Homo sapiens: one gene and its partners. The protein of the gene in region 3 interacts with the protein of the main gene of each other region in a biochemical or structural test. Each region holds a gene or a part of one and is shown on either strand. Other genes may lie near its edges. The genes, in order: RPS6KA1, SDK2, PDZK1 and CRHR1.

Region 1 (7,028 bases), about 120 Mb from region 3:
AGAGGTCTTTCCTTGATAAAGCCCTATAGAATTTTCCCTAATATCTAACTACCCTCAAATGATAACTAAGGAGCCAGGGGCAGGTGGTGAGTTGGAATAAGATCTGGCTTTAGTGTTAGGCAGCCCTGTATTCAAATCCTGTCTCCACCTACTAGCTAGACTTACTAGCTCAATGACTGTAGAGCTACTTAACTGCCCTGAGCCTTAGTTTTCCCATTAGCAAAACGGGGCCCTAATAGTACTTGCCTCACACAGTTGCTTCAAGGATTAGCAAAAAAGATAGGCAACACCCCTGCGTGGTACTGCTACCACCCTGCAACACCCGCCCAGTCATCAGAGAGAATTGGGTGGAGCACCTCCTCTGGGCTGAACCCAACTCCCACAGCCCTGTGGTAACACCATCACCCACACGGCCACAGCTGAGGGGCCCTGACCACTATTTCTCTATTACAGCATCCTTCTGGATGAGGAGGGCCACATCAAACTCACTGGTGAGTGGAGGGCGCCTGCCCCCTCGGGACCCAGGGGAGGACAGGACAAGGTCATGATAGGTCTCGGCTGAGTGCTGGGGGCTCATTCTTCCCGAGAAGCCGTGCCAGTTACTTGGAAGTGGTCAAAAACTCAGGCCTCAGACTTGGAACACCCTCAGCTGGAATCCCAGCCCCTCATTGTGTAACGTTGAGCAAGTCACCTGACCTCTCTGGGCCTTAGCTTCCTCCTGAGTGTCATGGGGGTGATGCCTTCTGGCCTCTGGGCACGGGGGTTGGGTGTGCAAAGGGTGGCAGCAAGGAAGGCAGGGGTCCTAAGGTGTGTCCTCCTGCCCTCCTTGCTGTAGACTTTGGCCTGAGCAAAGAGGCCATTGACCACGAGAAGAAGGCCTATTCTTTCTGCGGGACAGTGGAGTACATGGCCCCTGAGGTCGTCAACCGCCAGGGCCACTCCCATAGTGCGGACTGGTGGTCCTATGGGGTGTTGATGGTGAGTGCCCAGACAGGGGTAAAGGATCCAGCCCAAGCCTCTGGCCTCAGTCTCCCTATCTGTACAGTGAGGGGGTTGATCATTTCTAGGGCTCTCCCCGTCTCCTCTCACAGCCAAGCTGGCCTCACCCTATATGCACCTGCAGTTTTCTTCCTTGGAAGGATCCCAGGCTTGACCCCACCTGGGACGCGCCTAACCCAGTGCTGGCCTTCTCCCCAGCCTCGCGCCCCCACCGCTGCTCCTGGTGGTCTGGTTGGCAGAGGCAAGAGGGACGGGCATAATTCTTGCTCCAGGCTGACTTGGATGTATCAGCAAGAATCCTGGGACTGGGGCAGAGGGGTCTGACTGGGAGGAGGCGGGAGGTGTGTCGGAGACAGGGATCAGAGCCTGAATAGATCCTTGTCCTCTGCAGTTTGAGATGCTGACGGGCTCCCTGCCCTTCCAGGGGAAGGACCGGAAGGAGACCATGACACTGATTCTGAAGTAAGCCCCAGCCCTGCCCTGATAACAATGGACTCCTCCAAGCCCCAGCCCCAGTTTGGGGGTCAGAATATTATTACCCTGTCCCTGCCTCAGCTACCCTCTCTAATGAGACTCTCCTCTGGGTTAAACATTATACCTTCCAGAGCCCCTCTTTCATCCCTGGGGGCCTGTGGGTAGGATCCCTGAAGCCTTTGGGAAGTGAATTAGTGGATGGCTTGTCTAGACTGAGCTGGGAACTAGATCTGGACAGGGGCCGGGGGAGATGGGGCCTCTGGGGCAGGGCTCAGCCTTGATGAGTCCCGGGGGCTGTTTCAGGGCGAAGCTAGGCATGCCCCAGTTTCTGAGCACTGAAGCCCAGAGCCTCTTGCGGGCCCTGTTCAAGCGGAATCCTGCCAACCGGCTCGGTAAGCAGCCCCAGCTCAGGGGAGGGGATGTGGCGATGGGGAGCCGGGTACAGCTGCAGCCTAGGCCACAGGGCCACATCTGGGCTGAAAGGGGCCGTTGTCCTTTGTGTGGGCAGACAATGCCGCGGGCCACCCTGCTTTCTGGCTCCATGTGTGGTGTTGTGGAGGGGGGAGTTGACCTGTGTGTAGGGGGAAGGCAGGAACTGAGTCATCCCTACTCCCTCTGGGGACAAGGACAGAGGCCCCCACACAGCTTCTCCGCCAAGGCTGCTGGCACAAGAGAAATAGCATGAGCTCAGGAGTCAGAAGGCATAGGTCCCAATCCCGGCTCTGTGTCAGGTCCCCACTGCCTGGCACAAAACAGTCCCTCTATAAATATTTGTTAAACGAATGAGGCCACTTATGAACTAAGTGACCCCAGGCAGGTGACTTCACCTCTCTGCACCGCAGGTTCCTCGTCTCAATGGGAGATGATGATCCCAAGCTTGCTTCAGGGCTCTGTTGATGAAATGAGGTTGTGTGAACATGCCGGCATGTAGTAGGTGTCCAGTGTGTGCTGGCTTCCCTGGCTCCTGGGTTCATCTGGTCCATGACCAGCTGTGTAAGGTCCAGTCAAGGCCCCTGGGGTCGAATGGAGTAACAGCCTGTCCTATGGTTGAAAAGGTCAATGGGATAAGAGGAACAGAGATGAGGCTTGCCTTGGAATGAGGTGGGGCTCTCTGTAGGTCTCAGAACAAGCTCAGCTTCTGTTCTAACTGTGTGGCCTTGGAGAAGTTGCCTAAAGTCTCTGGGCCTTCCTCCTCCCACTGGTACATTGGAATTTCTTCATCAGAAGCTCCAGAAAGTGGAAAATGCTGAGTAGGTGACAGGCCTTAGGGTGATGGCTGGGTAGATTTGAGGCTGAGTGAGCCCATTTTCCCCTCTGCTCCAGCAGCTGGTCCCAGAGCCCTGTGAGGCTGCTTGGTGGGCAGGGTAATATCTGGGACTTGTGCCAGCCAGGGACAGACCCTTCATTTGGGCTCTTTCAGGCTCCGGCCCTGATGGGGCAGAGGAAATCAAGCGGCATGTCTTCTACTCCACCATTGACTGGAATGTGAGTGTGTCCACCCACACCAGGGCTCTGGCCAGGGCTCAGCCATCTTGGCCACAGGAAGGGTGGTGGGAGGGGAGCCTCTGCCAGCGAGGGCCCCAGACGCAGGAGCAGAGGGTCACAGCCTGCCCTTGAAGACAAGGGCTGGCCTCCTGAGGGCAAGCAATTCCGAGAGCTGGGCAATATGGCCTATGTTCCAAGCCCAGCACCTCCTCCTGCATGGGGCTCCTGGTGGGCTGTTGAGGATGCCATGGTGACCAGAGTGCCCACCCCACTGTGCAGAAGCTATACCGTCGTGAGATCAAGCCACCCTTCAAGCCAGCAGTGGCTCAGCCTGATGACACCTTCTACTTTGACACCGAGTTCACGTCCCGCACACCCAAGGGTGCGTCCCTTATCTGTTTTGTCTGTCTTGGGCTGGTACAGGAGGGAAGCCGGGAGTCGGTGGCAGCTTGGGGGGCAGAGATAGTCAGGGACACTGACAGGCCGAGGTATGCGGGTGGGCAGGCGGGTGAGTTTCTGGCTCCGTGGGACTGACTTTGTCCCTGTCTCACTCCGCCCGACTCTCTCACTATGGGGCTCTGTGGGTCTCTTTGTGTCTGGTGAGAGAGTGGGAGTGGGGATGTGTGGGTGGTGAAGGCCACAGTAGAAAAGCCAGGACCCCTGCCCGGGGCACCTTCCAGCCCACTGGGAAGACCAAACACATCAGGCTTACCATCACGTCAGGGAGAAAGAATCTGACCCAGCCACACTGTGTGGTGGCTGAGCAGAGGTGACAGTGCCCATAGGTCAGGGACAGGCATGGGAATCAGCTTTGGCTGCCCTGACTGCCCGGCCTCCGTGTACTTATCTGGAACAAGGGCACAGCCACAAACCCACTCATTCCCTGGGGTTGCTACAAGAAGCCAGTGAGGGAGCTTCTGGGAAGGAACCTGGTGAATCCTAACTTTTTGGCCAGATATTGACAGTGGGTGTGGGGTGGAATGTTCTGGGAAACCTCCTATAAGGGCATGTTTTAGGAGAGGGTGTGCTTTTCTTCTCTCCTCTCCTCCCCTCCCCTCTCCTCCCCTCCCCTCCCCTCCCCTCCCCTCCCCTTCCCTCTCCTTCCCTTCCCTCTCCTCTCCTCTTTTCAAGATGGAGTCTCGCTCTGTTGCCCAGGCTGGAATGCAATGGCGTGATCTCAGCTTACTGCAACCTCCACCTCCTGGGTTCAAGAGATTCTCCTGCCTCAGCCTCCCGAGTAGCTGGGATTACAGGCATGTGTCAGCACGCCTGGCTAATTTTTGTATTTTTAGTAGAGACGGGGTTTCACCATGTTGGCCAGGCTGGTCTCGAACTCCTGACCTCAGGTGATCCACAAGGGGGTGCTTTTCTCACTGCACTTGCACGCCTCTGATGACAGAGACAGCACTTCTCCAAGCAGTCCGCTGGGCAACGTGACAAGTGCAGCTTCGTAGGAGTCAGGGGCCGGAGGAGCAGCATCAGGCAAGGCTTCTCAGAGGAGGGAGCGTGCGAGTTGAGTCTTGAAGGATAGGCAAGGAGTGGATTATCTAGTTAAAGGGAACAGTGTGTGCAAGGGCTCAGAGACCCCTCTAAGGATCTGAGAAGTCCAACATGGCTCAGCTGTGGTATGGAGAGAGAGGAGGTGAGGATCACAGGGCCCTCAATTGCCAGACTCAGGAGCTGGACTTACTCCTGAAGGCAGACGGGAACCTTTGAAAGGTGTGGGCAGGGTGGCAGATTTGTGGTTGGAACCTTCCCTCTGGCTGCTGTGCAGAGATGGACCTGAAGGGGCTGACGTAAGATGGGGAAGCTGGGGAGGAAGCATCCAGGAAGGGATGAACTGTCTTGGCCTGGGATGGAGGTGGATGTGAGAGTCTTTTTTGTTCCTCATGCGACAGGACTGGGCTGGTCTAATAAACACATATGAGCAGTTGGGCCAAGGCCTGTGATGGACAGGCCCTCTGCAGGCTCCCGCCACGGCCAGCCCCTGAGGCAGGTCTGGAGGCCCTGTGCTCCCCCTTTGCTGGGCTGCCTCAGGGTCGAGGGGACCTCCTCAGGTACCCTCACATTCTCCTTCCATCCGTACAGATTCCCCAGGCATCCCCCCCAGCGCTGGGGCCCATCAGCTGTTCCGGGGCTTCAGCTTCGTGGCCACCGGCCTGATGGAAGACGACGGCAAGCCTCGTGCCCCGCAGGCACCCCTGCACTCGGTGGTACAGGTGAGGGGGGCAGGGGGCTGCTGCTCCATTATCCTTTTCTAAAGAATGGCTGAGTACACAGGCTCTGAGTTGGACAGAACCAGGTTCATACCCTCATGCCACTGTGGGACCAGTAGGGCCTCCAACATAAAACAGGGACAGTAAGGCCCACCTCACACAGTGGCCCTGATAATTGGATGATGATATGGGTGTACATTTCCCAGCACAGAGCCAGGGTCTGGGTACATGTCAGGAGGTGCCCAGGGTGGTGGTGCCGAGTGACTGTCGTGTCTCCGGCATAAGTGTAGCGAAGGACTTGGATCTCATCACACTTGTTCCCCATTTGTACACTTCTACTGCTAATGAAAGTTTCAGGTTGAGAGGCAAGAATGTAGACTGTGGAGCTCATTGCATGGGTTCCAGATTCACAAGATAATGGACTTTGGGGTTTTTTGTTTGTTTGTTTTTGAGACGTAGTCTTGCTCTGTTGCCCAGGCTGGAGTGCAGTGGCACAATCTCAGCTCACTACAGCCTCCACCTCCCAGGTTCAAAAAATTCTCCTGCCTCAGTCTCCCGAATAGCTGGGACTACAGATATACACCACCACACCCAGCTAATTTTTTTTTTTTTTTTTTGTATTTTTAGTAGAGACGGGGTTTTACCATGTTGGCTAGGCTGGTGTCAAACTCCTGACCTCAAGTGATCCGCCCACCTCAGCCTCCCAAGGTGCTGAGATTACAGACATGAGCACCTGACCAGATAATGGACTTTGGATGAGATACTCCCTTCCTCGTGCCTCAGTTTCCTCATCTGTAAATGGGGGAAATGATAGAAGCTTCCTCCATAGAGCTGTTATGAGGATTATTAGAGTTAATACATGTAAAGTTCATGTGGGCTGGGCACGGTGGCTCATGCCTGTAATCCCAGCACTTTGGGAGGCCAAGAAGGGTGGATTGCTTGAGGCCAGGAATTTAAACAGACCCATCTGGCCAACATGGCGAAACCCCGTCTCTAAAAATACAAAAATCAGCTGGGCGTGTTGGCGCGTGCCTATAGTCCCAGCTACTTGGGAGGCAGAGGTTGCAGTGAGCTGAGAACGTACCACTGCACTCCAGCCTGGGCAACAGCGTAAGACTCTGTCTCAAAAAATAAATAAATAAAATAAAAAATAAAGTTAAGGTGACTATGTAATTTATTTTCCAAACTGGGACATCTTAGTCCAGGACAAATATTAAATCAGACTGGATGCAAGGACCGCATGCGCAAGCCAGGGCTGGCCGTGGGGCATGCAGTCACCTGATGAAAGTGCTTAGAATAGTGCCTGGCACACAGCACACACTAAGCACCATTCAGCATTGCTACGGCTAATGTCCCAGAACCTTGAGACACCCCATGAGTTGAGCTGTGACACCCCAGAAAGGGAGGCAGGCCACTCAAAGCCGTACTTAGTGGCACAGCTGGAACTCAGCTCAGGGCTCCTGCGTCCCTCCCAGGCCTGCCCAGACTTTTCAGAACTAAAGTCCTCTCCATGTGTGTTGTGACCCTGTTTCCCACTCCCTACACTGCCCTCTGACCACAGGCTGCAGTCCAGGCAGGCTGGGAGCCAGTGAGTATGCCCATTATATAGAGTAGAAAACTGAGGCCCAGAGAGGGGCAGGCTGTCACCTGCGGTCACATGGCCAACACTCTACCCCAAGTCTCCTGGCCCTTCCCTGGTGCTGTCTCTACTGAGCCAAGACCTTAGGTCCTGGGGGATGACCCCTAGCACTCTAGAGCCAGGGGTCAGCCACAATTTTTGGTCTCCTACAGCAACTCCATGGGAAGAACCTGGTTTTTAGTGACGGCTACGTGGTAAAGGAGACAATTGGTGTG
Region 2 (6,590 bases), on a different chromosome or scaffold from region 3:
CTAGCTCTGTAGAAATTAAAATAAAAATGGACAAGGAGCTTGCCTTAAAATATCAGAGAGGCAGCATTATGTTTTGAGAGCCAGAAGGCTTTAGTACAAATCCTGGCTCCACCACTCCCCGAGGGCAAGCCACTTAAAGTCTCCCTGTCCCAGGTTTCCTCCTTGGGACTGTCGCAAAGATTCCATGAGTTAATAAACGTAAAGTGATTAGAACTGTGCCTGGCACAGAGTGAATGCCATAGACATATTAGCTATTGCTATTATTATTATTCACTATAATTTGCACATTGCATCAAGTAGGTTCTTATTCTAAAAGTTTAAAATAAATAAAATAGTGCATTTCACTGGAAGGCACTCACTTATGCATTAAGAGAGCAGATAAGTCAGACCCTTGACTCTTCTCTGCAAAAGCACAGCATGGCTAAAAATTGCTGTCTGGGGAATGAACTGCTTGGGTATGATACTGGGACAGGTGACCCCATTCATGTAACAGGAAGGAAAAGAATGTTGCTTCAAATCTCCAAAAAAAAAAGTTTATTTATAAAATACTGACAGTTTGACAGGACACGGGACTTCTTGTGGTATATATTTCAAATCAATTTCTTTCTTACCTTTCATTTAAAAAATAAACCTGCTAACACGCTATATGACATAGAGATATATATTTTTTTCTTACAGACAGACACCTGCCATAATGAATACTCTCCCCATAATTTTTTGTTATATCTTTTAAATCAAAAAATAAAGATTTGTGTTGATTTTTGTTTCTGGAGTCTAGATGGATGGAGAAAGGTAACACGTTTAAATGCTTTTGGTTATTCTGATGGAAACAAAGAGAAGGGGGGTGGTCCCGAGGGGGCACCTGTGCTCAGGTGGTGGTCAGGATTGCCATGTGCGCATGCCCATGGGTGTCCCTGGATAGGGCCATACAGAGGCACTGGGGAGCGGGTGGCGGCTGCTCAGATGGTCTCCCCTTTACCTTCCTGCCCACCAGCCCCTCACCCAGGGTAGGCACCTTCAGATGTGCACTCTGGGAAGCTGAGGGAAGCCCCTGCCCAGCCAGAGTGGCACTGTGGTGAGGCTCTGGCACCTTTAGAAGCACTGCCCAGGGAGGCGTGGGCAGCAACAGAAGGCCTTGAGGCAGCGTGCACCAGGTGGGGGCAGCCCCCGCTGTGTCCTTGTTTCCTCTAAATCACGGCAGTGCCAGGTTTGGGGGTAGGAGTTTTGGGGGCCGGGGGGTGAGGGATGGACAGAAGGGGAGGCAGCCTGGGTTTGCAAACTCTCTGGAGCCCTAGGAGGATGGTGGTTCTGGAGCCCAGAGCATCTTTTTGGTTTGTCTTGGCAGTGTGGGTGTGGAGCTGACGTCAACTCTGGAGGCGCAGCCAGGAAGGGGAAAGCCCTGGTGTGCCCAGCATGGGCTCCTGGGTGCAACACTGGGAGATTGCTTAGGGCACAAGGAGGCAATGCCAAAGGTGCCAGGTGTGTCCTGGTGTGAACCTGCTTTGGGTGGAGTCCCACAGGCAGGGGCCCTGGCATCACTGGCACGGAAAATCACAGGCCAGAAAGGGTCCCACTCTTTCTACAAAGGGCAGGGCCCACCACCCCTTTCTAATGTGGCCAGGTTTCTGGGAGGACGGTTGGGAGCCTCGGCTGTGCCAGTAGATATGTAAACAAGGGCAAAGAGACGTGTCCTGAAAAAATCTAGAGTTCCACAGCTGCAGGCCTGGGCTTCCAGCTGTGGCTGGGGCTGTGGAGACAATATTCCAGATGAGTGGGTATTGACTAAGTGTGGGACTTTCACCATGGGCCCAGCCTGATCTCATGGGCTTGTCTAAATTTGCGTGGTGTCCTCACCCTCTCAGACAATAGATCCCAGCCACGCCCCAAGTGCAAGCAACCCAGGCCACCTGTGCCTCACAGGGGAGAGATGGCTTCAGCCATCAGAGGGAGTTCAGGAGTCTCTTTGCTAACACACATACAGATGTGTGTTCTGTGCATATTTGTGTGTGCATGTGTGTAAGCACAGGCGTGCATGGGCACCATCCCGCATGTACACGTAGGTGTCAGCATGGGTGCGAATGAGCGTGTGGGGAGTGGGGGGGTGGAATATCTTAGTGCACCAGGTGATTCATTAAAGGCAAAGGAAAATTGACCTCATGTGCAATATATACACAGACACAATGTTTTTACTCACTCCTGCTTCCTCCCAAATAATCCCTCACTGGGCTGGGCTTAAATAATTCCCTAATGCAAACTGGGAACTTCCTTAAATGGTTAAATGCTCAGCAGAGAGGGAAAGGGATGAAGTTATTTAAAAAAAAAAAAAAAAAAAAGATGAGAGGAAAGAAAAGAAAGCTGTGCGGCACGATCACAGGCCGGCAGCTGCAGATGTGCTGCCATGGAGATGCCAGATGCTGCAGAGGGTGGGGGCGGAGGTGGCAGGGGTGGAGCAGGTGTCCAGCTGACTCCACTGCAGCCCCCAGACAAGTCCAAGGAGGCCCCGAGAGCACCTTACTTCCTGGAGGGGCAGAACCTCAGCCCTTGGTTCTCCTTTGGGGAAGATTGTGCTTCCCTTCCCAGGCCTCCTTATTGGAGAAACCGCTTTTTGGACACTGGAGCTGGGCTGGCCTGTCTGCTGAGCCATCTTCCAGCATCTCCCCGTTCACATTTCCCAGGGGTCAAGTGCTTCAGGAAAAACTCATGGCTGGGTGTGCCCGTTCTTTGGGCCCCAGACCCTGACTTCCCTTCCCGGTCACCATTAGCACAGTGACTGACTTGGGGCTGTAGGAGAGTGGTCCAGGCTCTCTCTTACCTTGGCATGTTTCCCAAATCTCCTACTTGGGCTTCCTTGAACTCTGCTCACCCACCCCAACAGAGCATCATCTCTTGGGCAGGGCCAGCAGCGCCTGTACACAGTGCACAGAGGGAGCCCTGCTCCACGAAGGGGCTCACGCTGAATCAGACAGGCCCCTGTGGGCCATCTGCCACCCATCTCAGCGGTGGGGCAGGTGTTGGGCTGGCCTTACAGGGCTGGCTGAGGGCACAGAGGGCCTTGGACAATGTATGGAGTTAGATAGAAAGGCTTCTCCCTAAACCCTGGCATCCGTAAGTACCAAGTGGACGGGAAGATCCTGGCCACTGGATGTGGCTTTTTGCAGAACACTCCTTGGAGCAGATTGTGTATGTGTATGTGTGTGTGTGTGTGTGTGTGTGTGTGTAAAAGCATTCCCTCCCATCAGCTATTCTTGTCACTTGGTCCCATCTGACCTGCCCCTGCTGGGCGTGCAATTCAAATGCTGGGTCCACTTTGGACTGAGCTTCCTGACCTGCCCCTTCCCCTCCCCGCCCTGGCCAGGCGGAGCCCAGCCTGGAAGCTGTTACTGGGGGTTAGGGTGTCTTTGCCTTTTTGCCTGTAAACTGGGTGCTAGGCTGACTGAGCAAACTCTGGGTATTCCAGCCTCTGGACCAGGGACTTGGGCCACCCCTCTGGGCTCCTGTGCCTCTGTGCTTAGGAGGCTGCCGGGTGGCAGTGAGAGGGACACAGATCTGAAAGTGAGTGTGCTGTCTGGCTAGGAGGGCCCAGATGAGTTTGTTCTGGAGAGGATCCCTAGACCCTGTTCCTTGTAAGTGCATGGGAGATGTGTGTGTGTGTGTGTGTGTGGTGAGGATCTATCCAGTGGAGAGTGACGTGTCTGCCCAGAGGGAGATCCCTCAGCTGTGCCCCACTCCCCAGCCTTGGGAAGCTGACTACCCCTTTAAAGAGAGGACGGATGGAACCTGGATTGGAAGAAAGAGAACAGTCAAAGTGTCATTCTTATCTTGCCCACAATGCGTTAAACCTAATCATCCCACAGTGCCAAGGCCAGTCGCCTTATTTACACCTCTGCTCCCCAGACTTCACCTTTCCTTGTCCATGCTCAGGAAAGTCAATTCCAGCACAGGGAGGCAGGGGTCAGTTGTGGGGGGTTTCTCCCCTACCCTTGGGCTCTCTTCCTTGGATTCAATATTTTAAAAAATATGCAGGAACAAGGAAGGCGCTAAGCAAATTCTCACCCTTTAGTTTTTTGTTTTTTGTTTTTCTTCCTTTTTCTAAATAAACCAAATGCTTGGTGGAGAAGTTGAGCAGGGGAGATGGGCAGTAGAGGTTGCCAAGACAGGGCAGGGGGTCTGGATGAGGCTGTCCGATGCCTGCCAGCCACAGTGATGGTGCATGGAGGGAAGGAGGAGCAGAGAGAGAAGATAGGCGTGGCCTCCGGGATGCCCATTCTTTTTGCAGAGAGCAGCGGCAGTGGGTCCAGGGGTCCTGGAGGGGCTGGAAGGGGGCAGCTGGCTGGACATCCAGAAGCTTTTTCTTCCCTCGGCCACGCCTGCCTGGCGGCCTCCAGTCCTTAGCCTCCGCTCCCTCTCTCTCTCCAGATGCCCGCCCCACTCCGTGTCCATAGCAGTGACACAGCCACTTCCCCAGCTCCGTGTAATTCCCAAGGGAGCAGTGAACCCCACCATCTCAAAGCTGAAGAGCTGCTGGCCACACACATCCTCTCACGGTTTTCTCCCTCCTTCTGAACGCCGGCTTTGCTGGCCCTGGAATCTCTGGAAAAATAAACTCAGGAGGTGAAAAGTTGACTTGGTTTCTTGGTGTTTTTGTTTTCTGGCAGGCAGTGAGAGGAGGGGTGAAGGAGGAGTTTGGTGCCATTTCTCTTTCTGCTTTTTCCTCTTCTGATGTCAAACAAATGATGAAAATCCTGCTATGGGAGCCCGGGAGCCTGGGGCCAGGCTGCTGGGGGGACGGTAGAGGGTGCTCTGCTGACTTGGGGGGTTAGGGGGGTTCTGGGGCGTTGGAGTCCGACTGGCCTTGGGCCGAAAGAGGCTGCCCTGCTGGGTGCTGGTGCTGTTGGTGACGGTGGTGTGGTCTGGCTCACCCGAGTCGCTCTCCGTGTAGCTGTAGGCCTGTGCCCTCGAGATGCCCTTCTGCTGTCGCCGCCACGAGTTGTAGTATGTGGGGTCACTGATGTAGTGGTTGACAAAGGAGTGGGCCTTCTGGTGGTTTGAGTCGACCTCGTACTCGCTGTCACTTCCCTGGGAGGACAGAGAATCAGGGTGTGTCAGTGGCCCCGTAGGGACAGGCCATTGTGGTTGGGGCCGGAAGGCACAGGGCATTCTGGTTCAAAACTCTGCTCTGCCTCTTTCAAGACTTGGACTGTGGGCCTCCCAGCCCCCTCACTGCCAAGGGGGTCTGGTGCCCGTTTGTGCCCGCCTGCTGCTTCCTTCACAGCAGATCCGGAACCGGAAGGATCTACTATGGGGTTGGCCCAGAGCTGGGAGATACCTGATAGAATCAGAAGACCTGAGTTTTTTTTTGTTTTTGTTTTTGTTTTTTTTTTTTGAGACAGAATCTCGCTGTTGCCAGGCTGGAGTACATTGGCATGATCTTGGCTCACTCCAACCTCTGACTCCCTGGTTCAAGCAATTCTCCTGCCTCAGCCTCCTGAGTAGCTGGGATGACAGACATGTGCCACCACGCCTGGCTAATTTTTTTGGTATGTTTAGGGGTTTCACCATGTTAGCTAGGCTGGTCTTGAACTCCTGACCTCAAGTGATCCACCCGCTTCACCCTCCCAAAGTACTGGGATTACAGGTGTCAGCCACTATCCCTGGCAAATTTTATTTTCTTTCCTTTTTATTCTTTTTTTTGGGGGGCGGGGAGTGGAAGGGGCACAGGGAATCACTGTGTTGCCCAGGCTGGAGCACAGTGGTGTGATCCTCTCTGTAGCCTCAACCTCCTAAGCTCAAGCTATCCTCCCATGTCAGCCTTCTGAGTAGCCAGGACTATGGGTGCATGCCACCACGCCCCACTAACTTAAAAAAATTTTTCTCTTGTGATGAGCTCTCCTTATGTTGCCCAGGCTGGTCTAGAACTCCTGGACTTAAGTGATCCTCCTGCCTTGGTCTCCTAAAGTGCTGGGATTACAGGCGTGAGCTACTTTACCTTACCTTTGTTTTCTTTTCTTTCTTTCTTTTTTTTTTGATACGCAGTTTCACTCTTGTTGCCCAGGCTGGATGCAATGGTGCAATCTGGGCTCACTGCAACCTCCACCTACCCGGTTCAAGTGATTCTCCTGCCTCAGCTTCTGGAGTAGTTGAAATTACAGGCACCTGCCACCATGCCTGGCTAATTTTTTGTATTTTTAGTAGAGATGGGGTTTCACCATGTTGGCCAGGTTGGTCTTGAACTCCTGACCTCAGGTGATCCACCCGCCTTGGCCTCTCAAAGTGCTGGGATTCAGGCGTGGGCCACCGTGCCCAGTCTACCTTTGTTTTCAATTGAAGTGAGGTTCACATAACCGAAAGTGAACCATTCTAAAGTCTATGACTCAGTGCATTAGGACCGTCGCAGTGTTGTGCAACCACCACTTCTATCCAGCCCTGAATCATTTCCATCACCCCAAAGTAAAACCTTGTACCCAGGAAGCAGTCACTCCCTATCTCTGCCCCTACCGGTCACTCCCTATATCCATGCCCCTGGCAACCACTAATCTGTTTTCTGTCTCCAGGGATTAACTTATTTGGGACTTTCCTATAAATGGGATCAT
Region 3 (5,912 bases):
TGGCTTAAGAACCAACTGAAGCTGCCAGAAATGATGAGTCATTTTGCAGTTGGTGGAAAGTCAAGCAGAAATCAGAGGCGGCTGCTGCAGCTGTTTGTTGTAAAGGGGATTCTGACCCCTCCTGATCTTATCATAGAATGATTTAATTGTAATTTTTCTGTTTTGGTTAATAGAGAACTTTGATCGAAAAAGAAGCCTGCCCTCATCATCTCCTTCCCCGCTCTCCAAAGTAAGCCCTGTAGGTTGGGGTGGAGGGTAGATCTTTGAGATACATCAGTGAGTAAAACACAACCCTCTAGCAGTCCCTGGCACATACTAGACACCCAATTATCTGAATGAAGCATGAATAAAATCTCATTTTTTTTTTTTGAGACAGAGTCTCCCGCTGTTGTCCAAGCTGGAGTGCAATGGTATGTTCTCAGCTCACTGGAACCTCTGCCTCCCAGGTTCAAGTGAGTCTCCTGCCTCAGTCTCTCAAGTAGCTGGGACTACAGGTGTGTGCTACCACACCTGGCTAATTTTTATATTTTTAGTAGAGAATGAGGTTTCACCATTTTGGCCAGGCTGGTCTCGAACTCCTGACCTCAAGTGATCCGCCCACCTTGTACTCCCAAAGTGCTGGGATTTCAGGCATGAGCCACCAAGCCCGGCCAAAATCTCAAGTGTTTTAATGTTATTGCACTTTGCCTCGAGATGAGCTGCGACTGTCAGATACAGTTGATTTGCTTGTTTGGGTAGTGTTATCAGACGTATTTTTGCATGTAATGAGTCACCTGATAATTTTCCATATTTTAAAGAGAAAGGCTCCATTGTGGAACTGTTGCAAGTATATGACTGAAAGGTCTGAAGTTAGTTGAACTGGGTAACTAGGAGGTTCTGTGCTGGTGGTATTCTCACTTAGAAAGGAAGGAGATGTGGTCTTGTGGTTAGTAAGACACATGATAACCAGAGGACTAAAAATCTAATTTTAGTCAGGCTGCTAAACAGTGCGATTTGAAGTAGAGCCCACACTGTGCTCACCTTCCATTGCTTGATTTCCTACTCATCACCTAACAAATGTTCCGGACACGTGTGGGCAGCCATTTAGCTGCTGATCCAGGATCACACCATACCCAGGTCCACCCTTCTAATTGTCTCAACTAAAACAGCCAGTTAGGCTTGTAATTCTATTACAAAAAAATCAATCCTGTTTCCTGTTCTATGCCTCTTCGGTATTCAAGATCATCATTTCTTTACATGGATGGTCTGGGAGTTGATATGAATTAGGAGTATTTAAAGATGTTGGAGAGTTTGGCATAATAGAAGTGACAGCTAATGCTTACAACAATACATAGCAAAATAAATAAGCACAGATCCCAGGTCTGGAAGGGGAGGGTATTGGCAAGCAGCAAAGGGTTGGAATTAACTTTTGTTACAATATGTGACCATATAACAGCTGTCACCCTCTCACCAATTATTCCTGTGTATATGGGTTGGTCTCTTCTAGTAGCTTTGAATCTTTGGATAGTGATAAAAATAGTGTTATATTAACATTCTCCAGAGAGACAGATCTAGTAGGATATAGATACAGGTATGAGAGGAGATTAATTAGGGGAATTGGCTTGTATGATTATGGAGGCTGAGAAGCCCCACGACAGGCTGTCTTCAAGCTTGAGACCCTGGGATGCCAGTAGTGTGGCTCCGTCCAAATCTGACTGAGCCACATTACTGGCATCACCCCTGATTGGCAGTCCTACTTGTTTGCTTCTGTGCATTTGGCCTGAGAATCTGGGGGGCTGCGGCTGTAGATCTTAGAGTCCAAAGGCCGGAGAACCAGGAATTCTGATGTCCAAGCACAGGAGAGGAAGAGGGTATCCCAGCTCTAGCAGACAGACTGACACCTTTGCCTTTTCTGTAGTTCACTCAGACTCGCATGCTAATCCCCTCTGGAACCACCTTCACAGACACACACCAAAATAATGCTTTGCCGGGCTTCTAGGTATTCCTTAATCCAGTCAAGTTGGCATCTAAAATTAACTATCACAAGTGTCTTGTGTTTTACTTTTTCTAATGTGTTTAAGGAGCTCTGAAGACCATCTTACCGAAAGGAAAAGCCAGAAGAATGTACTCTGCATGAGGTACCGGCTAGTCGGTCAGATATGTCATTTCCCAACAGGGAGATTATGTATAGCTTGTTCAGTGACTTGCTCACTATCATGAACTCACTCAAAAGAAACTAGCAATTTTTTAGACTTCTTTTGGGATCCTTGTACCGCATCCTATACTGCTTTTATGTTCATGTGTGCATTTGTGTACATGTATACACATATTACTCCATAACGAAGCACAGTCTTCTTTTATACCTTTCCTGGTTGGGGTAGTAGAGGAATTTTACAGCCTACAATCAGACACATCCAGAAGAAGAGTGGAATATGTATGATACCTTAAAAATCAGCACATTTAACAAAGTATAACTTACTCATGGTTACAACTAAGTTAATGTTTTTTCCCTTTATTTTTCAAAAGGCTCATTTTTCTCCATTTCTCTACTATCAAAGTCAAGAACTGCCCAATGGCTCTGTCAAGGAGGCTCCAGCTCCTACTCCCACTTCTCTGGAAGTCTCAAGTCCACCAGATACTACAGAGGAAGTAGATCATAAGCCTAAACTCTGCAGGCTGGCTAAAGGTGAAAATGGCTATGGCTTTCACTTAAATGCGATTCGGGGTCTGCCAGGCTCATTCATCAAAGAGGTATGGTAATCTGGTTCCAGCAGCCCAACAAACACAGCCACAATTAGGATAGTCTCAGCTTTTCCCACCCATTGATGGCTTAGTAGAGAGGTTCCATTGAAGGCACACACTGAGGGGTCTCACTTGGGTTCAGATAAATGTTGTCATGGTCCCACACCCTTTAGGTTAGCTACCAGTACATCATAAGCTCACGTTTGTTTGTTTCCCAAACATCTGTTCCAAACAGTGTGAGTTGACTGAACTCTAGTTGACAGTCACTATCAACCCTGATTGGCAGTCATATTTGTTTGCTTCTGTGCATTTGGCATAATGCCCCTTACCCTGTAGGGACTGATAAGAATCCCTAAAGCTTTCAAGTTGGGAGTGAAGAAGGGGGACCTATTTATCCCCCTTCATCCCAGAAGACATATGATGCTGAACCACTATTTATAATACCACTAATCATGTGAATATGGAAGTTATAGCCTTCATAAATATAAAAGCATTAGAACACCTTTCTCAACTTCTATACCTCAAGGAGAAATAATAACATGATTAAAAATAAATTCTTGAGCTCCTCATCTATTCTCTTAAGGAGAGCTAGTCTGATGTCCCCTTCTCTGTTTGAAATTGATAACTCAGAACTTCTGTTCACAGGTACAGAAGGGCGGTCCTGCTGACTTGGCTGGGCTAGAGGATGAGGATGTCATCATTGAAGTGAATGGGGTGAATGTGCTAGATGAACCCTATGAGAAGGTGGTGGATAGAATCCAGAGCAGTGGGAAGAATGTCACACTTCTAGTCTGTGGAAAGAAGGCCTATGATTATTTCCAAGCTAAGAAAATCCCTATTGTTTCCTCCCTGGCTGATCCACTTGACACCCCTCCAGATTCTAAAGAAGGAATAGTGGTGGAGTCAAACCATGACTCGCACATGGCAAAAGAACGGGTGAGTGGGGGCCTATTTCTTTTCGTGATCTAATTTACTAGAGTATGGGTACAGTCCCTATGAGTATATTTAATGTCTATGTTTGCCACAGATTTTTTTAAAACTAGAAAATGAAAATGTAAAGATAACTAACAAATCAAGTTATTGTAGAGGACAGGAGGCAGTATAAGAACAACAAATTTCTTACTTTCATAGCATGCAGCTGACAGCAACTGTCTAGAGCTAATAAATCAAGAAGTAAAAAGTTTATCAGTATTGTAATGGGAACCCCCAAAAGAGCCTGAATCGGATGATCTAGATATGAATTCTGGTTCTGTCATTTGTCAGCTGTGGGGAAATGGATTTATTTGTTCTGTTCCTCAGTTTTCCCACCCATAAAACAGGAATAATTTGTAGGATTGTTATCAGGATCATGTTAACTAAGATTAACTATATTAAAGTGCTTTGAATAGTGGCTGGCTCATAGTGAGCATGTAAGTGGTGACGGTTAAAGACAATATTGTTTAAAACAACTGACAGGTAATCCAGTTTTATTACTAGGAAAGATTAAGCATTCTCTATATTATTCTCTATATATTTGGATTAAATTTCTTGGTAAGTCTCAGTTTTATATTTTTGCCCAATTTTTCATAGATGAACTTGAGGTCGAAAAGTAAACTGACTTATCCAAGTTCATAAAGGAAATTTATAGCAAAGCCGAGACTCTAAAAAAGTTTAATTCAATGTTGTTCTTCTTTCCATTATATTAATTCTGCTAATGGGTGGAATATTCATTTTAATAAACTCAGTTTAATGAACACACACAATGCCCACTGATTTGTATTCAGGAATGCTTAATAAATACTATTAGTTGTATTAGTTGTCATTTAAAAATTCTGTAATTTCTCTTTAGGAAGTCAATATCCTAGTCTTATAAAAAAGAAATATACACAGACATTAAGGAATTTGTTAATGTGTCAAACAGCAAGTTGAAAACAATCAAGTGTAGAATTCAGGTCACCTGACTTCTAGTCATACCCAGATCATCTGATTCAGGCTCTTCTGGGGGTTCCCATTACAATACTGATAAACTTTTTACTTGATTTATCAGCTCTACACAATTGCTGTCAACTGCATGCTGTGAAAGAAAGAAATTCTAGTGAGTGACTCTACTCCCCGACTTAAGTCATGCAACTCTAGAATAGATCATCCCTCTTTCATTACTCTACCATTTGTAAATTCTTTGTTTTCTTATACACAGGCCCACAGTACAGCCTCACATTCTTCTTCCAATTCTGAAGATACAGAGATGTGATGAAAACAAGTAATAGCTTTGGCTGTTTATTTGATAGCTGTTTCTGGGTATTTAATAGGAATCCTTTCTCAAGGAATGAGTTGTGACCTGTTTACTGTCTCTTTAGAAGAAAAACTCCACTGGAAACCATTCACCATGTGTGATTGTCTTCTGTTATCATTTGTCTTACAGGCGGCTATTGCAGACGGCTAATTTATGCTTAACTTAGGAAGAGATAAGGCAAGAGCTAGATTTTTTTCATGTGATCTTTTCCAAGCTTCAACTTAACTTAACTACATTTCTCTGTATGATGATGTCTCTTACTTCTACAGGTTCCTTGAGCACCAAAGATGATTCATAACTCTGTATAGGTGACAGCTGCTTATAAAAGCATCTTAGCAGATAAGCCTATTAAAATTGTGCTTTTGTAACAATGTTGTGGTTGCTAGAATAAATACCATTAACAAATGCCTTTTGAGTATGCTTGATAGTGCTTTTGTTTTGGATTCACTTTTTATGCTTTAACCTTCATTTGCCTCTAGAAACCCAAAACACAATAAAGTACAGAATAAGACCTTAGTAATAAAATTCAGAATTTTCTTAAATTGCATGTCTGAGTGTTCTAAAAATTTTTCAACATTTCCCTTTCACAAGTGACTTATTCCCCCAGTTAAGTTATTCACGGTTTCACCCCACAGCGTGAGGGGCAGATAGAAAAAAAAAAAAGGAAACATCACTACCGAATTGAAAGTAGGGTATAATACTAAGTTCACAGGAAATCAAGAAAAAATGACATACCTGAAATCTCTCTTTTGGTAAAATCTATTTCAGGTGCATACCACCCCTTTCCCGGAAAAGAACAGATAACCTCTTTCTTGGTTATTTTAATGGGGCAGGATCAGATGAGGAGGTGTGGGATGCTAACTGATGTTAGATCACACAAGCATAATAAATACCAAGCTATGCTTGATAAAATGAACGT
Region 4 (7,028 bases), on a different chromosome or scaffold from region 3:
AATAATCTTTGAAGGGTGATATTTGGCAGAGGCACAAATATATCTATCCTGGAGCTGCTACTGCCCTCGGTCTCTCCCACCCTGTCTCCTTTCCCACCCGACGCTTTCTCCCTTGGTGCTGAGGAAGACGGGGGTCAAAGGGCAGAAGGGGGGACACCCCAGGCTGTCCGAGGGCCAGGGATTCTGATTGTGGAAGAGAGAGACTGACCTAAGCAGTCCCAAGAATCCCGTCGCCTAAAGATCAGAGCTGGAAGGGACCGTGGAGACTCTCCTTCCCATCTTGAGGTTCCCAGACTTGCCTGGTTATAAGAATCGTCCAGAGGCAGATCTCCTGAGGTCAGGAGTTCAAGACCAGCCTGTCCAACATGGTGAAACCCCATCTCTACTAAAAATACAAAATTAGCCGGGTGTGGCGGGATTACACCTGTAATCCCAGCTACACGGGAGGCTGAGGCAGGAGAATCGCTTGAAACCAGGAGGCGGAGGTTGCAGTGAGCCGAGATTGTGCCATTGCACTCCAGCCTGGGCAAAAAGAGCGAAATTCCATTAAAAAAAAAAGTGGGGCCAAGTGCGGTGGCTCACGCCTGTAATCCCAGCACTTTGGGAGGACGAGGCAGGCAGATCACGAGGTCAGGAGATCGAGACCATCCTGGCCAACATGGTGAAACCTCATCTCTGCTAAAAATACAAAAATTAGCCGAGCATGGTGGCGCATCCCTGTAATCGCAGCTACTCAGGAGGCTGAGGCAGGAGAATCACTTGAACCAGGGAGGCGGAGGTTGCAGTGAGCCCAGATCGCGCCACAGCACTCCAGCCTGGCGACAGAGCAAGACTCTGTCTCAAAAAAAAAAAAAAAAATGGAATCTCCCAGAGCACTTGTCCAAATACAGGTCCCAGGGCCACACCCAACACCTAAGAAATCACACTGTCCAAGGAGGACCTGGGAATCTGTGTCTTTCATGAGTGCCCCAGGGGAGCCTTCTGATGGGGCAAAAGTGAGAAACTCTAATCTAGTGCGACCCGTTCACACTACAGATGGGGAGACTGGGGCCCAGAAAAGGGGAATGATTCACACAAGGTCACGTGGCTCTGGGACATTCCCTTTTTTTTTTTTTTTTTTTTTTTGAGACAGAGTCTTCCTCTGTCGCCAGGCTGGAGTGCTGTGGCGCGATGTCGGCTCATTGCAACCTCCACCTCCCTGGTTCAAGTGATTCTCCTGCCTCAGCCTCCTGAGTAGCTGCGATTACAGGAATGCACCACCATGCTGGGCTAATTTTTGTATTTTTGGCAGTTAAGTCAGAGCCCGGAACCCAGGGCTTTGGAGCCCAGGCTCCGGAGCACAGGCTCTGCAGCCCAGGCTCTGCTTTGCCCACTGCCAGGTATCTGGCGTGAAACAAAGTTAACGGAGAAAGAATCACTTTCCTTCACCTGTAGCTCCCACCCCGGCCTGGCAAGCTTTGGTTAGCCCCACCCCTGGCTTCCTGGCCTCAAGTCACTGAGCTAATGCGGGGCTCTGCTGTCTCCTTCCGGAAGCTGCAGCTAGGTCAATGCCTAGCTTAAAAGACTCACGAGTTCTTCCACGGTGCTGCTCTGGCAGGGCGAGGGGCTGCCTGGCATCTCAGATCCCACAGGCCAGACCTTTGGGTGGCACTCAAGGCTGGGGTGGGTTGGTCAGGCTCCCTGATGATCTGATCTGAGCAGGGAAAGCCCTCAGCTTGCTAAGCCCCCACACAGAGAGCCCACCTGGGAAGTCCTGGGATTGGGAGGAGGGCTCCTCCTGGACTGGGGGAAGGAGGTGGGGTTCCAGGTTAGGAGACTTAGTTGGGCCAGAGGAGATGGCCTTGGCCTTGGCTGGTGGGGTGGGAGTGGGCAAGACCGTTCAGGGATGTGAGGAGCCCGTAGCCTGGCACACAGTAGAGGAGGTGGGAGGAAAGGAAACAGGGCTGGTGCTCAGAGGAGCGGGTCAGTGCTGTCAGTGACTCAGGACCACACGCCATTGCAGAGAGGGATGGTGTCCAGGAGGCACAGCTAAGCCATGAGGTCAGGCTGCAGGCCGCACTGTCTGTCCCAGCTTCACGCCCTGCACTCAACCCTCCTGAGGGTCAGCGCGGGGTCTTCGTGGTTCACCTGTCTCTCCTGCTCTATTGCAAGCCCCTTCTTTTCAGTTGGCTGATGGGGACACTCGGCAGCCCCCATTTTCCCCAGCACCCTTCAAAGGCCTAAGGGCAGTAGGTTAGCCACCCTCAGCCTGCCCTGCAACACCCAACCCTGCCAGGACAGGGGTCTCTACCTCTGTCCACCAGCAGGGTTAGGACAAGGAAGAGGATCGGGAGCCCGGTCTCATCAGCCCCCTCTTTGCATTGCAGTGGGAATAGCACGGACCTTAGGGTTTGGGTTTCAACGGGAACCTGCTGCATGACCTTGAGGAGGCAACTTAACCTCACCAAGTTCCCAAAAATGGTGGCCAGGAATTCAGATCTCTGCCTTCTGGGGATGGAAGGGTGGTGTTGGCCTGTCTTGGCCTATGGGAGACGTTCCATTCACCTGCCGCCCCCTGTCTCTCATCTCCCCTGTGAGGTCAGGGGAGGTTGTAGTGTACACCTGGGGGAGTGACCCGCCCCACCCCCCAGCCCATCCGTGCCTGGCTCTGCCATCTCTTTCCTCTGCAGCCCCTGCTGGCCTGGTGCCTAGCACTCTGGGTAATCGATTAGTTTAATTAGTGAAAATGCCATTCCCTTCTGCCAGCCCCCAGCCTCGCCAGACCCCTCCCAGAACTGCAGAGGAAAGTATCCAATTAATTGAGTGGTAGGTTTCTCAGCTCTGGGCCTGGGCTAAGCCCTAATTAAGCTCCAGCGCCCTGGGGTATCGCAGATAATGGATTCGCAGAAGTCTGCCTGTGAAATGGGACTTGCAAGGGCACCTCAAGGCCAGGCACCCCAGGAGATCTGCCCGCAGCCAGCACCACCAGGGGACAGGCCCCCAACTGTTGCATGCATGGCTGGCCGGGGGATGGCACTGAGCCCCCAGCACCACCCCTACACCTGCTGCCTGTATCAGCACCCTCTCCTCCCCCCACCACCTCCCGCTACTACTGTTCACTCCCTTCCCCACCGTCCAGCCTTCCCCCACCCACCCAACACTTGCACACACTCTATCCCCTTTCCCCACGTTCTGCTGCGCACAGGAGCCTGGGCCTCAGGCACAGCCTGGGAGAGCACACCGTGGTGGGACATGAAACGGATTCTGGGGGTCTGGTTTGTGGACCAAGGTTCACTGCTCACCGTGTGGGGAGAGGTGAGTGGTGGTTGGACCAGGGCTTCTGAACTGCAGAGGTGCTTTTTCCTAAAACCAAGCTCCGATTCCATGGGCCTGGCGTAGGGCATACATTCCACTTTCCTCAAGATCTCTGCGTGCTCCTCTGCGTGCTGTTGCTGGGCCAGGGGCCACCCTTTGAGGATCGAGGGGCTGGAGTGAGTGCCCACTGCAGGGTAAGAGGAGTAGCTCTGGAAGCCTCGGTGGAGAGGACGTGCCAGAATGGAGTGGGCACCAGTGGGGAGCTTGGAAGGGAGGTCTCATTGCCACCAACCCAGAGAGGCATCAGGACGGATCTGGCACTGCAGCGCCTGGGACGAGGTGGTGTCCTGCAGAGAGTCCAGTCAGAGTCAGCCGGGCACAAATTGCTTATTCAATTCAGATCACTGAGGGTACAGCGGAGTGGCCTCTGCCAAGTACCACGCTGTGCCACCCTCCTTAGGGCGGGGTGCCTGCTGGTCTTAGGTCTCCAGACTGGATGGAGATGGAGTGCTGGTCAGGGCCCGAGGGGTAGCTGTGCCCATTTGTCCTTCGGACATCCCAGCTGCTTTGCTGTTATCGTGGCCATCGGTCGGGGTGTCACTGGCTGTCCCTGGGGGTGCTGCTGACTCTCCTCTCCAGGTATCACTGGCCACCTCTCAGGGTGTTCCTGGGTGCCTCTTAAGGCCTTGCTGTCTCTCTAAATAATGCTGGCCAGAACTCTGGTTGTTATTGGAAATGTCACAGTGTCACTGGCTTCTGTCTGGGTGTCGCAGGATGTATTTGTCTCAGGGTATCAGCAGCCATCCCTCAGGCTGTCTCTCCAGCTGTCTTCTCAGGTTGCATGATGCTGATGTGGCCGATGAGAGACAGGGCTTGAACCCGGCCCAGGCCCGACTGCTCAGGGAGGCACACTGAGACTTTGTCCCCCGGGAATGGTTTGGCCTGATTCTCCCTCAGGCTCTTGGAGGAAAGCCCTCTTGGGCGCTATTGTCCCAGCAGGAGGTCCCCCGAGGCTCCTGGGCCCAAAGTGGCGTGAGACCACCCCAGAGAGTGCCTCTGCTTTCAATTCCTGCTTGTCCCCCAAGAAATGTCGCAGGGGGCCGGACACGGTGGCTCACGCCTGTAATCCCAGCACTTTGGGAGGCCGAGACAGGTGGATTGCCTGAGCTCAGGAGTTCGAGACCAGCCTGGGCAACATGGCAAAACCCCATCTCTACCAAAAAATACAAAATATTAGCTGGGCATGGTGGTGCATGCCTGTGATCCCAGCTACTCGGGAGGCTGAGGCAGGAGAATCACTTGAACCCAGGAAGCAGAGGCTGCAGTGAGCTGAGATCCTGCCACTGCACCACTCCAGACTGGGCGACAGAGTGAGACTCCATCCCTCCCCCACCCAAAAAAAGAAATGTCCCTGGGAAACAGGGAAAAGAGGGAGCTTAAAGCCAGGCAGACCCAGGTTCCAGATACCGGCTGCGTGGCGTGGCCAATTATTCAGTCTCTTCTACGGAAAGAACTGGGATGAGAGGAGCAGTCTCCAAGGGCAGCTGTGGGAAAGAAAAGCAGTAGTGTCTGCAGAGCTCCTGGCACAGTGCTCAGCATACAGCAGGTGCTTAACAGATAACTCCTCCCCACTCCAACCCCAAGGGCCCGGTACGGCCTGACTCGGGAGTGAGGCAGGGGCCCTGGAAGGCAGCACTGAAGGGTCTCCCTGCACACTGCGCTCCTCCCGCCCAGCCTGGGCCTGTGAACAAGGCCGGGGTGTTGTGCCATGCTCGGCTCCACACATGTTGTCATTACCCAGGGGCTTCTCAGCATGGATTTGTGGAAAATTTAATAAAAGGATATTAAATACCAGCTCCAGACAGCCTGTGATGTGTGCATATCTTCCAGAGCCTCCGGATTGGGGCATCTGCCGCCAGGCGCTCAGAGACCCTCCCCACTTGCACGGGTGATAGGTACCCTCTCCTCACTCCCCTCTCTGTCTCTGTCTCTCCTGCCTTCATTTACACCTCCCTGGATCCCAGTCCTTTGGAGGCTGGAGTTGCTAATGTAATTACCTGCCATGTTCCAGAAAGCCTCTGCCTGGAAACCAGCTCCAAGAACAGAGCTTCTGTAGCAGCCTCTGGAGAGGTTCCCCAATGAGGGTGCTCCTTCAGAAGGGCCTTGGTGGCCGGGCGGAACTGGGCATAGGGTCTTGGCTTCTCCTGGGATGCCTGGTGGATAGGGCTGGACTTGATCTCTGGTTTCAAGTGGGTTCTGTAATTCCAACAGGAAGGCCTATGGAGTAGCTCCTTGGTGGCCAGTAGCTCCTTGGTGGCTCTGAGAAGATGATGAGGGCCGTTGTGAGCTCAGTGCTTCTCAGCACTTGCATGTCACCCACCTTTGTGCCTCATGATCATTCAGCCCCACCCTAGAGCCTAGAAACGGGGAGGAAGGGAGGTGCTGCCAGGGACCCCTCCCTTCTCAAAGTCACCTGCTTTTCAACACCCGTCTTTCCTTCCTTCACTCACACACTGCTTTGGAGTTTGACTGCGTGTCAAGCTCTTGGTTTCTAGGCCCTGCTTCTTGGGACCTATAAAAGTGTGGATGGGGGCTGTGCTCTTGGGCAGGAGTCTGCAGAGAGCTGGGCATGGGGACTGACCAGTCCCCTATTATGGGCTGGGGACCTGTTTGCAGCCTTCGTATCTTGCCAATCTACATGTGCAGGCAAGAGGTGGTTTTGGAGTTGCGCGACCTCCAGCGCGTCAGCATAACCTCTGTGCTGTTTTCCTACAAAATAAAGCCCAGATGCCTTTCCGGCTCCCCCCACGGGGTTGCCCTGATGGTTTAAGACGATAACAGATATGAAAATCCTCTGTAAACAGGAAGGCTTCACCACTCTTGGAACTCAAGATTGCTGTAAAGAGGAGGGCAGTGACCTCCATCAGTATATTAAATTCATTAAGAAATAAACCCGGGGAATGTGTTACAGTCCTGGGAGAGGATCCTGCTCACTCTGCACAGATCCCCTTGGGCCAGGGATGGGGAAGGCCCCGGAAAGTGAGTTATGGAGCCTAAGGAGACTTTTCTGTGGTTTCTGCTGATTCTGTGGATGCCAGAGCCCAGCAGCTGCCCGGCCCCTCCTTGCTCACAGGAGCAGGCGGCATTGCAGCAGGAGGGATTTAGGGGTGGCTGAGAAGGTGGTGACTCAGTTCAGAAATGGGTGGAGAAGAGAAATCCCGGGAGTTTGGTGTCTCTGCAGCTGAGAGGTCCACCTGGTGTTCTGACTGGGTGGCAGCATGGGTAGATGCGAGTGTGAGGGCGCACCTGTGAGCCGGCCACATGTGCTTGTGCATGCAGGGGCGGGGGGTCCATGTGGAGTGGGGAATCCCACGTGATGTGGAGATTCAGTTCGACACAACACGGAGCAGTGAACACAGCATGGGATTCAGGGACAAGCAGAGCCTCAAACTGGACGGCGTTGCTCTGCAGCGAGGCCTGACCCTCAGCAGATGCTCAGGAAGGGGGAGTGGCCCTTGAGATCATGACCCGCTCCATCCCAGCCACCCCTAGGCGATGTCCTCACAGAGCAGCTCCCATCCAGCAGAAGGCTCACCTCTGCCCCTCTCTCCTGCTCCAGAAAAAAAGCAAGGTGCACTACCATGTCGCAGTCATCATCAACTACCTGGGCCACTGTATCTCCCTGGTGGCCCTCCTGGTGGCCTTTGTCCTCTTTCTGCGGCTCAGGTGAGAAG

Evidence for each region.
Region 1: the proteins of PDZK1 (region 3) and RPS6KA1 interact in a test that uses a peptide from one of them, tested with the Homo sapiens proteins (2 studies listed by BioGRID and IntAct).
Region 2: the proteins of PDZK1 (region 3) and SDK2 interact in a test that uses a peptide from one of them, tested with the Homo sapiens proteins (2 studies listed by IntAct, with this or other methods).
Region 4: the proteins of PDZK1 (region 3) and CRHR1 form a complex in vitro, tested with the Homo sapiens proteins (2 studies listed by BioGRID and IntAct, with this or other methods).

Annotation. Positions count from the first base shown.
Region 1 is NC_000001.11:26,553,761-26,560,788, forward strand, and holds part of RPS6KA1 (ribosomal protein S6 kinase alpha-1), read left to right. Parts: intron 1-453; coding exon 454-491; intron 492-781; exon of another isoform or gene 782-833; intron 834-835; coding exon 836-978; intron 979-1,390; coding exon 1,391-1,461; intron 1,462-1,776; coding exon 1,777-1,865; intron 1,866-2,893; coding exon 2,894-2,958; intron 2,959-3,237; coding exon 3,238-3,340; intron 3,341-5,046; coding exon 5,047-5,177; intron 5,178-6,965; coding exon 6,966-7,028. UniProt on the Homo sapiens protein: Serine/threonine-protein kinase that acts downstream of ERK (MAPK1/ERK2 and MAPK3/ERK1) signaling and mediates mitogenic and stress-induced activation of the transcription factors CREB1, ETV1/ER81 and NR4A1/NUR77, regulates translation through RPS6 and EIF4B phosphorylation, and mediates cellular proliferation, survival, and differentiation by modulating mTOR signaling and repressing pro-apoptotic function of BAD and DAPK1.
Region 2 is NC_000017.11:73,333,865-73,340,454, forward strand, and holds the end of SDK2 (protein sidekick-2 precursor), read right to left. Parts: intron 5,077-6,590; coding exon 4,723-5,076; 3' UTR 4,591-4,722; coding exon of another isoform or gene 4,505-4,590; 3' UTR 520-4,504; downstream 1-519.
Region 3 is NC_000001.11:145,670,475-145,676,386, reverse strand, and holds the end of PDZK1 (Na(+)/H(+) exchange regulatory cofactor NHE-RF3), read left to right. Parts: intron 1-173; coding exon of another isoform or gene 174-229; intron 230-2,060; coding exon of another isoform or gene 2,061-2,117; intron 2,118-2,505; coding exon 2,506-2,730; intron 2,731-3,366; coding exon 3,367-3,657; intron 3,658-4,747; coding exon of another isoform or gene 4,748-4,780; exon of another isoform or gene 4,781-4,897; coding exon 4,898-4,951; 3' UTR 4,952-5,122; coding exon of another isoform or gene 5,123-5,143; 3' UTR 5,144-5,402; downstream 5,403-5,912. UniProt on the Homo sapiens protein: A scaffold protein that connects plasma membrane proteins and regulatory components, regulating their surface expression in epithelial cells apical domains.
Region 4 is NC_000017.11:45,822,302-45,829,329, forward strand, and holds part of CRHR1 (corticotropin-releasing factor receptor 1 isoform 2 precursor), read left to right. Parts: intron 1-6,913; coding exon 6,914-7,020; intron 7,021-7,028. Other genes in the region: LINC02210-CRHR1 (CRHR1-IT1-CRHR1 protein), read left to right, coding at 6,914-7,020.